Regions from separate parts of the Homo sapiens genome. Here region 2 is linked to region 1. The links come from fine-mapping of genetic effects on gene expression. A gene starts in region 1. The other region holds a variant in brackets. All regions are shown on one strand. Distances are between the middles of the regions.

Region 1 (5,376 bases):
TTTATACTCTCATCAATACTGTATGAGAGCTCTTATCACTCCACATTCTCACCAATATTCGGTATTGTCTTTTTCTTTTTAGTCAATCTAGTGAGCATGGTTTCATTTTGTATTTTCTTGACTACCAATGAGGTTTAGCACATTTTCCTAAGTTTTTGGCCAGTTGGCTATCCTCTTTTGCAAGGTCCCTGTTCAAGTATCTTGTCTGTTATTCTTTTGGGTTATCTGTCTTTTTCTTATTGGTTGGTAAAAGTTATTTGTATATTCTGGATATGAGCCTTTTACTGGATATATACTTTGCAAATATTTTATCTAATTCTATGACTTATCTTTTCACTATTTTAATGGTATCTTTTGATAACCAGAAGTTTTAAATTTTAATGCTGTTCAATGTATCACTCCTTTCCTTTATGGTAATTACTTCTTGTCTTGTTTAATTCCTTCCTTACCCCAAAGTTATAAAGATATTCTCTTACATCATATTTTAGAAGACTTATTGTTTTGCCATTTTTTTTTTTTTGAGACAGAGTCTTGCTCTGTCGCCCAGGCTGGAGTGGAGTGGTACGATCTCGGCTCACTGCAGCCTCGACCTCCTGGGCTTAAGCAATCCTCCTACCTCAGTCTCTGGAGTAGCTGGGACCACAGGTGCGCACCACCACGTTCTGCCAATTTTTGTATTTTTAGTAGAGACAGGGTTTTGTCATGTTGGCCAGGCTTTTCTCAAACTCCTGAGCTCAAGCAATCTGCCTGCCTTGGCCTCACAAAGTTCTGGCATTACAGGCGTGAGCCCGTGCCCAGCCCGTTTTGCCTTTTTTTGTTTGTTTTTCGAGACAGAGTCTTGCTCTGTTGCCCAGGCTGGAGTGCAGTGGTGAGAACACAGCTCACTGCAGCATCCTGGGCTCAAGTGATCCTCCCACCTCAGCCTCCCAAGTAACTGGGACTACAGGCGCACACCACCATGTCCAGATAAGGTTTAAATTTTTTATAAAGACGGGGTCTCAATATGTTGTCCCGGGTGGTCTCAAACTCCTGAACTCAAGCAATCCTCCTGCCTTGGCCTCCGAAAGTGCTGGGATTACAGGTATGATCCACTACACCCGGCCTCCAAAACATTTTCTAATTTTCCATGGATTTTTCTCCCTCCCCAAAGCATGTGGGCATAAAAATGACCACCGGAGGGCCTTGTCAAAAGGCAGGTTTTGAAGCCCCATCTGAAAACCTCCTAGATTAGTATTTCTGGGAGGTAGGCTTGGGTATCTACACTTTACAAGTTCTCCAGGGGATTCAGATGCAAGTGGGTTCCAGGTCCACAGTCTGGTAGCAGAGCCTGCATTTCCTAAGGGCAGAGAGCATAGGTCTGAGTCACCCGGTACTGTTAGTGCCCAGCACTGGGCCTAACATAAAACCATTTGTCATAAATGAAGGAACCAATGGATGAAGGAAGAAAGGAAATAAAACACAATTTCTTATATCAAGATAATTTGAATTCTTGAATGCTGTAACTTAGGGGAACCACTGAAGCATCATTTGGTCCCAATTTAATCATATTTGAAACAAATATTTTTTTCCTTGTCTTCATATCTCTGCCTACCAAGCGTTCTCCTCACCTCTCCTATTCTGTTGTCCTGGGACATGGCTTTAAGTATGGGTTCTGCCTGTCTGCTGGCCCCGAGAAAGTGGGGATGGCACAGGAGATATCCTGAGAGGGGCTGTTCAGAGTTGGGCAGCGCTCCTTTCCCACCCCAACCCCCCAGCCAACCTCCAGGCCTTGCAGGGAAAATGCCCATAGAACCCCATTCTAAATCAGTTTATGAATCCCACCTCTCCGGGCCCTAAGCATGCCTCCCAGCCCAAAGCTTTTGAGAAACTTTCGCCGGACCTTTGTCCCGACCCAGATCCTAGCGTCCTCTATGCCCTGCCTCCTCTGCACTTGTAGCCCATGTGAGTTGCTCTCTCAGCAGCCTCTTGGCCATCTCTCCCCACCTCCACTCATGCCTCTCTCGAGCATCTCAGAAAGGCCCGAGCCTGACTTCCCCAGCCAGCTATTGTCCTGGCAGCACAGCCGCCACGCCAGCGTCCCCACCCAGTCAGCCAGCCGGCTGCTCCCTGGCCTCGCCAGCACCCCCCGCCCCCCCCCCCGCTCCCCGCCCCGCCCCAGGGAGGACCAGGCTGGCAGCTGGGAGTCTCCCTGCCTGCTCAGCCTTCCTCCTTCCCTCCCTCTCCCTCCCTGCCTCCCTCCTCCTCCGCCCGCCCCTGAGGCAGGGACCGTGCAAATCGAGGAGAGGGGGGACGGACAGGCCTGATGGGGTCCAGCTTAGGGCCCCGGACTCCCCACTGATGCTCTATCCAGGCTGGGTGTCCCCAGCATCGTGGGACCTGGATTTGTGTGCACCGGGGTGGTTCCCAGGCCAGGAGGGTCCCTCTGGCAGGCCCTTGGTGCCCTCGTTTTGCATGAGGACCCCCCTCGGATGCTCTGAGCCACCCTCCTCAACCCGGATCTAAAACCCGGGACACGGCTATCAGGCCAGCCTCTCTCTCCACCCCACCCCCTCTTTCTGGCGTCCATCCCCTCCCCAACACCACCTCTGCTGCTGCCTCTGGCTGTGGACCTGCACCTCTTCCCCATCCCCGCCAGGCCCGGGGAGCGGGGTGAGCCTGGATGAGAGCCCCCCCAACCTGGGGCTCTCCCAGGCCATGGCCCGTGTGCTCCCAGGGAGGAGCCCCGGACCCTGAGCATCTGCTGGAGGCTTGGCAGAGGCCCCGCGGGGACCGTGTCTTCTGAGGACAAAAGGCGGCGGCCAGCAGGCAGACGGAGGGGGGGGGTGGGGGGTGGGGGGGGTAGGGGGACCGGCAGCCAGGCAGGCAGACGGGTAGCAGGGGCCAGCACTGGCCCCCCTCCCAGCTTGGCAGTGGCATGAAGATGGGAGTGGGAGTGTATAGTGGAGGAAGCACCTGCCGGGACCCCCACCTGCCAGCTAGTTGGACACCCCAAGGCTGTGTGCTGCCCACCTGGTGTTCCCCAACACCCCCAGCCCTACCCAGTGCACCCCTCCGGTGCCTGCTTTCCCTGATGCCTGCGATTTAGACCAGCCCGGCTGTATCCACGGCAACAGAAGCAGGAGTGTCACTGGCCGCCAGATCACTGAGGGTCCCACAATGTGGCCCGGGCTGTGATTTACCTGGGTGAGACAGCTTGAGCCCCATCGTGGATTCCAAGACATCCCTGCTGAGAGAGCCAAGGTAAGCAGTCAGCATCCCTCCACCAAGGATGGGGGGCTGGGACTTCTGTTCTGTCTCCCCACACATACTTCAGAGTCTCCATCACTGCCATGCTCTCTGTCTCTGTCTGACTCTGTTAGTCTCTTTCTGCTCCATCAAGGGGCTCCTTGGTACCCAAGCCTGGGGACTCCTCATCTTCCCCCCATCTTCCCCAATCCCAAATGTCCCATGAGAAAGGGAACCACCACCTGTTTCCCCTCACAGGGTCTGTTTTTATCATCATGGTTGCGTTTGGGCATGAGGCTGTGTTAATCTTTCCTTGTGTGCTGGCTGTGGAAGGGATGCCTGGGAGCCCGGCGGCCGTGTTCCCTTCACAATGCCTGCACCCTGGGCAGGCTCAGCCTCTTGCGGCTGCTCCTCTCCCTCTCCCTCCTCCTCCACTCTCCTCCAGGATCCCTGGCCTGCTGGCCGGGTGTGTGTGTGTGTGTGTGTGTGTGTGTGTGTGTGTGTGTGCACCTGGGTAGCAAGCAGGTGGGTAGACATGACAGAGAAGCTGCTCCCAGCCCAGACCATCCCCCACTCCTTCTTTCCTCCTTTCCTTCCTTCCTTCCTTCCACCCTCCCCACCTCCCCATCTCTCCCTACAGGTAGCAGAGTTTTGCTCACTCACCACTGAAGATGTTGCCGATTCCCAGCTAGGGGGAGGAAGTCACTGTAGGGCTAAAGGACAGTGAAGTGGTGGTGGGGAGCACTTCCAGGCCCTAGGCTGCCTGATGGTTCTGTGGGGGCAAAGACCAATCCCATGACAACCTGCAGGGGCCAGGAACAACATGGTTGTCCCTACAGTGTGGGACCCAGCCTCCACCACAAGGCTCTCTGTCTCTGTTTCAGATGTCCATGTTGTGTCTGAGACCCCCCGGATCTTGTGGCCTTGTGCCCAGTAGCCGGAGGTCCATATATCTGGAAGGGCAGGAAAGCCTGGTACATGGAGAACATGGATCCTCCCAGGGACACTTCCCCCAACTACTAGCTCTGCAACTTTAGTGGAAGCATGCCACTTACCGAACCTCAGTTTTCCCATCTGTCAAAGAGACTGGTAACCCTTCCCTGATGGGTGTGTGTAGGGATTGAATGAGTTGGTGCATGTAAGTAAGAGATGTGCATCGAGGTGGCACTGAAGCAATGTCAGCAAAGCTCACAGTCAATATTGTTGCTGATTATTCATGATTAATAGTGTTATCGATTACTTGGAGGAGGGACAGGTCCTTCTTCTCCAGGGTCTCAGCAGAGATCTGGGGAGGGCAGCAAGTGGGCAAATGGAGGGTAGTGGAAGGGAGGCAGGAGAAGCCCTGTGTTAATACTTCTCATTTGTAGAGAATGATAAGTGGTTATGGGCAGAGCCTCCCTCCCCCACCCCACTCCAGTCTTCTTTCCCTGCACTTGTCCCTGTTTGTGCGCACACACACACACAGAACCTTGAGCCCCCATGAGCCAGCAGAGGCCTGGCTTGCAGCCTGCAGCCTTTCTGGCCCTGGTGATGTATGTGTCTCCCTGTTGAGGGGAGACTTGGCAAGAGTTTGGCCTGTGGTCAGTGGTTGGCAGGGCCTGGAGATGAGGCTGAAGCTCCTGAGATCACGGGGCTTCGGGTAGAGCTGGGGTGTGGCCCATGCAGCAGCCAGACCTGTGAGGGACGCGTCCCAGGGAGCTGCTCACCTAGAGCCTGGGGTGGGGGAAGAACGGGGTCTGCTGGCTGATTTCAGGGCATGGAGATGTGATGGGACACAGAGTGTGGGGTCGGTGGCCAAGGGAAGAGGAGGAATGGGGAAAGACTGAGGCCCAGAAGACCATCTCTGTGGGGGCAGGGAGGGGGGCTTTGAGGCATAAAGTAGACTTTTCTGAAGAAGCATTTGGTGTGGGAGAGGACCTGGTCTGTGGTCTGGAGGCCTCTGGGCCCGAGCGTGGTTGTATATATGCTACTGAAAATGTGTGGCTGAGTGTGTAGTCTGTGTGTGCATGTCTGTTCATGGGCAGTGTGGCTGTGTATGAACCTGTGTGTGTAAGCAGGCCGTGTGATGGCATGTGTGTGAGTGTGTGGGTATCTGGGTAGGCTTGTGTGTGTACTGTGGGGTGGGCATGACTTTGCATGTCTGTCTGGGTG
Region 2 (5,376 bases), 28 kb after region 1:
TAAATATATATTTATATTTATATATAAATATACATAAATATATATTATACATAAATATATATTTATATATAAATATATAAATATAAATATATATTTATAAATATATAAATATACATGTATATTTATTTATATATAAATATATAAATATACATTTATATAAATATATATAAATATACATGTATATTTATTCATATAGAAATATATATAAATATACATGTATATTTATTCATATAGAAATATATATAAATATACATTTATATTTATTCATATAGAAATATATATAAATATACATTTATATTTATTCATATATAAATATACATTTACATATAAATATATATAAATATACATTCATATATATTTATATATAAATGTATATTTATATATATTTATATATATTTATATTTATTTATAAATAAATATATAAATATATATAAATATATATTTATATTTATATATAAATAACTATATAGATTTATATATATTTATTTATAAATAACTATAAATATAGATTTATATATATTTATTTATAAATAACTATAAATATAGATTTATATATATTTATTTATAAATAACTATAAATATAGATTTATATATATTTATTTATAAATAACTATAAATATAGATTTATATATATTTATTTATAAATAACTATAAATATAGATTTATATATATTTATTTATAAATAACTATAAATATAGATTTATATATATTTATTTATAAATATTATAAATAAATATATAAATATATATTTATATTTATTTATTTGTATTTATATATAAATATAATTATATATAAATATATATAATTTATATATAAATTTTTATATTATAAAATTATATATATATAAATATATAGTGTGTTAGAAGAGAGAAATTCTAGGAGGCAAAATAGGGAGAGTGGCATGGAGGGGGCATTATCTGTCACCTGGATTGCTGCAGGGGCCTCTGAGTAGTCTCCCTACTTTTAATACACCCCACATGACCCCTGCTCTTCACAACGGCAAGCGGGATTCTGTTCCATCCTAGATCATACCACATCTGGCCTCTGCTCAGAATCCTCCCGTGACTCCCATCTCATTCAGAGGAAAAAGTTCTCGCCACGGCCTCCCTGATCTGACCTCACCACCTTTCTGACCTCACCTGCCACCACATTCCCCTGACTCACTGTGTTCCACCCACAGTGGCTTCCTTGCTCTTCCTCAAATATGCCATGTAGAGTCCCACCTCAGGGCCTTTGCTCTGGCCGTTCCCCCTGCCTGGACTTCTCTTCCCCGAGATATCCGCATGACTCACTCTCTCACCTCCCTTAGGTCTGTGCTCAGATGACACTTCCTCCGTGAAGCCTCCCCTGTCCACCTCATCTAAAACTGCAGCATCTTCCCCACCCCTAGCACTTCCTATCTTCCTTCCCTCCTTTATGTTTATTCTTAGGAACTTGTCATCATCTGACATACTATACTTCACCCGTGTCTCTTCTTTGTTATCTAGAATGTCGGTTCCACAAGGGCCGGGATCTTTATCTGTGTAGTTCACAGCTGTATCCCCAATACCTAGAACAGTGCCTGGCACACAGATGCTTGATAAATATTTTTTCAGTGTATGAATGAATATGCACAAGCATCCCTACATGTTTATATTCACACATACTTGCCTCCTCACCTAAAATAAAAACCAAAGTCCTCATCGTGGCCCACAACCCTACACAATCTGGCCCCAAGGCATCTCTGCGACTTCACCTTCCACCACTGTCTCCCTTGCTCTCACCGTTCCTGCCTCACTCGTCTTCCTGCTGTTCCTCAAGCACACTAAACACATTCCTCATCATGAATAAAGAAATCTATTAAGTGAGTGGTACCAGCATTTTAAGAACACATGAAAGAGAATAAAAATGAATGGGGTACATTGCATACAGGTTCAGTACTGTTTTGTGAAACTTTTGGTTGAGCTGTGTGTGTGCGTGCATGTATGTGTAGCGGGTTGTGATGTAAAATGTATTTTTTTACTGTGGGTGGCAGTAAAAAAAAGTCTGAACACAACCTTAGAGCTTTGCAAAAGGGGAGAAGAGCTGCACCAACATCCCTGCCCCACAGATCCACCAGTGGAGGAAACAGGTAACCAAAGACATCCAAAGAAATGCAGCATCCTCACCTGACAAGGAGCGGGTAGGAGCAGGAGTGGCCCAGGGGCAGGGCCTGGCACCAGCCAGGGCATAATTGGGGAGGGCTCGTAGACACACTAACCCTACCCTTTCTGTTTCTTCCTCATCTTTCCTTTCCATCTGTTTCTCATGGTCTCCTGTCTGTCTCTCTCTCTCTCCCCTCTTTCTCTCTCCTCGCTCTTTCTCATCCCCTCCATTTCTGTGTCAATCTCAATCCATTTATATCGGTGGCCACTTTTCTATCTCTTTGTTCTATCTCTCTCTCTCTCTCTTTCCCACTTTGTCTCTGCACGCCTGTTGTGTTTTTCTGCCTGTCTCTCTCTTGCCCTCATCTCTCTGTCTCTCTCTTGCCCTCATCTCTCTGTCTCTCTGTGTCTGTGTCTCCCCCGCTCATTCCCATTTGCAGGTGCAATGTAGCAGGACAACTCATGGAGCCCCCCCGGGCCCATCGAGTACCGGACTGGCTGACCCCCTAGGGTTGGCAGTAGCCCCTGACCCTCAGTATGGCCAACACTACCGGAGAGCCTGAGGAGGTGAGCGGCGCTCTGTCCCCACCGTCCGCATCAGCTTATGTGAAGCTGGTACTGCT[G/A]GGACTGATTATGTGCGTGAGCCTGGCGGGTAACGCCATCTTGTCCCTGCTGGTGCTCAAGGAGCGTGCCCTGCACAAGGCTCCTTACTACTTCCTGCTGGACCTGTGCCTGGCCGATGGCATACGCTCTGCCGTCTGCTTCCCCTTTGTGCTGGCTTCTGTGCGCCACGGCTCTTCATGGACCTTCAGTGCACTCAGCTGCAAGATTGTGGCCTTTATGGCCGTGCTCTTTTGCTTCCATGCGGCCTTCATGCTGTTCTGCATCAGCGTCACCCGCTACATGGCCATCGCCCACCACCGCTTCTACGCCAAGCGCATGACACTCTGGACATGCGCGGCTGTCATCTGCATGGCCTGGACCCTGTCTGTGGCCATGGCCTTCCCACCTGTCTTTGACGTGGGCACCTACAAGTTTATTCGGGAGGAGGACCAGTGCATCTTTGAGCATCGCTACTTCAAGGCCAATGACACGCTGGGCTTCATGCTTATGTTGGCTGTGCTCATGGCAGCTACCCATGCTGTCTACGGCAAGCTGCTCCTCTTCGAGTATCGTCACCGCAAGATGAAGCCAGTGCAGATGGTGCCAGCCATCAGCCAGAACTGGACATTCCATGGTCCCGGGGCCACCGGCCAGGCTGCTGCCAACTGGATCGCCGGCTTTGGCCGTGGGCCCATGCCACCAACCCTGCTGGGTATCCGGCAGAATGGGCATGCAGCCAGCCGGCGGCTACTGGGCATGGACGAGGTCAAGGGTGAAAAGCAGCTGGGCCGCATGTTCTACGCGATCACACTGCTCTTTCTGCTCCTCTGGTCACCCTACATCGTGGCCTGCTACTGGCGAGTGTTTGTGAAAGCCTGTGCTGTGCCCCACCGCTACCTGGCCACTGCTGTTTGGATGAGCTTCGCCCAGGCTGCCGTCAACCCAATTGTCTGCTTCCTGCTCAACAAGGACCTCAAGAAGTGCCTGAGGACTCACGCCCCCTGCTGGGGCACAGGAGGTGCCCCGGCTCCCAGAGAACCCTACTGTGTCATGTGAAGCAGGCTGGTAGGCAGACAGGCAGAGAGAAGGTCATGGCCACCGTGATGGGGCCAACAGCAAGGGAGGGGTAGGGGCCCATACAGGAGTCCTCCTTTCTGAGCTCCAGCCCCAGCCCCTCGAACCACCTGTAATCTAGGCACCTTTGCCAACACCTCCCAAGGATGGAGGACTGGGCGAGGGACTGGGAAAGAGGCATATTTAGTTTTGTGGGGCCTGTCTCCGCTGCCTCCTTCTCCACTTCTACAATCTCATTCTCTCTCTCTCTCTCTCTGTCTCTCTCTCTCTCTCTCTCTCTCTCTCAGAAGTGACAATTCAGAAAAAGAAAAGAACACTGAGAATGCAGGTTTTTCTACTAACAGCTGAGGAGACAGGCTTTCTTACTTTAATGTCTCTCCTTCTGACACTGTCCAGAAGGGGGAATTTGTCCTGTAAAATAGACTTCCAGAGCTCTTTTGCCCCCTCTGCTCCCATGCACCCTCCCCTTCCAAGTCCTTTAGCAAGGCCTGGATGTTTAGGGAGAAAGTGGTCCAAGGCTGCTGACAAGAGGGACCAAAGGGGGTGCTGGGTTCCCAGGGAGCAGGGATGTTTAATTACTATGTCATGTGCAATGTTGTTTTAGGCCAACCCTTGCCCCAAGCCCAGTCTCTTCTCCCTCCCCACCATGTCCAGACCTCCCAAATGGTTCTTGTGCATCTGTTGGAGAAGTCAAGGGAGTAGGGAGAAGGGCCCCAAGGATGGGCCCAGGTTAGGTGAAGAGTAAGATGTGAGCTGAACTCCTCGAACTGAAGAGACCCACACTTGGTCACATTCTCTCACGCTGCCTTCAGGATCCCCAGCCCCCAACTCTTCTTCCTGAGGATGGAAATCCACTCCAGCCCCACTAGGACTGATGTGGGTGCCATACAGGCAGGAGCAGCCCACCAGGAAAGTGTAAGGAGGGAGCTGAACTCCCCAGAGTAGCTGGACCACAGAGACTTGGGTCAGAGCTGATTTCAACCCCAGAATTGTCTCTCGGGTTCACCCTACTCTTCTGAAGATGAAAATTTGTTTGGGGCCTTGGTAACCGATAGCGGTACAAACTCCAAGGCACTGTGGACTTGAGTCCATTCCTATCTGACCTCTTTTTGTCCCCCTCAAGCCTCAGGGGCCTCAAGCCCCTCCTTAGTAGCCCTTGGCTGACTGGGCCCTGAGCCCCAAGCATCCTTCTTTCCCAACAACCCTCCTTCCCCATCCTTCCCCCACCCTTACCTACACCCAAAGTGGAGCACACTGCAGTCAGATTCTCCAGGAGGGAGATCCAAGCCTCCTCCCAGGGGTGGAGTCCACTCTGGGCTTACTTTGAGGCCTGTTCTGTGGATTGGTGAGCCAAGCTGGCACTCCTTGCCCTGGTCTTACCCAGGCTCTCTGTCCCCCTCTCACTTCCTGTGGGGCCGGAATCTGTATTTATCCATCCCCCTTTCCCTTCTTTATAGAAGTCCCTGTCCTAAACTCCCTCCCTAGCCCAAGAGAGCCCCAGAACTGGGGAAGCCTGACCCATACAGAATGGGGAGGGCACTCTAGGCAGGAGAGACATTAATGAGCCTGGCTGCAG

Alleles and levels. Alleles are on the strand shown, and positions count from the first base shown. SD is a standard deviation of normalised expression in the study named.
In carriers of allele G in region 2, the expression in spleen of the gene that starts at base 2,545 in region 1 tends to be higher than with A alone (small effect, 0.37 SD a copy in GTEx).

The links. PIP is the estimated chance that this variant, and not a neighbour inherited with it, causes the effect.
Region 2: its variant is fine-mapped to the expression of GPR173 in spleen (GTEx, PIP 0.97).

What each region holds. Positions count from the first base shown.
Region 1 is chrX:53,046,245-53,051,620 of GRCh38, forward strand. It overlaps GPR173 (G protein-coupled receptor 173), which reads left to right and starts at 2,545. Exons shown (of 2, transcript NM_018969.6): 1 at 2,545-3,240.
Region 2 is chrX:53,073,962-53,079,337 of GRCh38, forward strand. It overlaps GPR173 (G protein-coupled receptor 173), which reads left to right. Exons shown (of 2, transcript NM_018969.6): 2 at 2,564-5,376. The coding sequence starts at 2,661. The coding sequence ends at 3,782. Among named protein-coding and RNA genes, the nearest start is that of TSPYL2, 5.7 kb to the right of the region's middle. RefSeq lists an enhancer at 3,629-3,688. The variant G/A (reference allele first, on the strand shown) is at 2,747.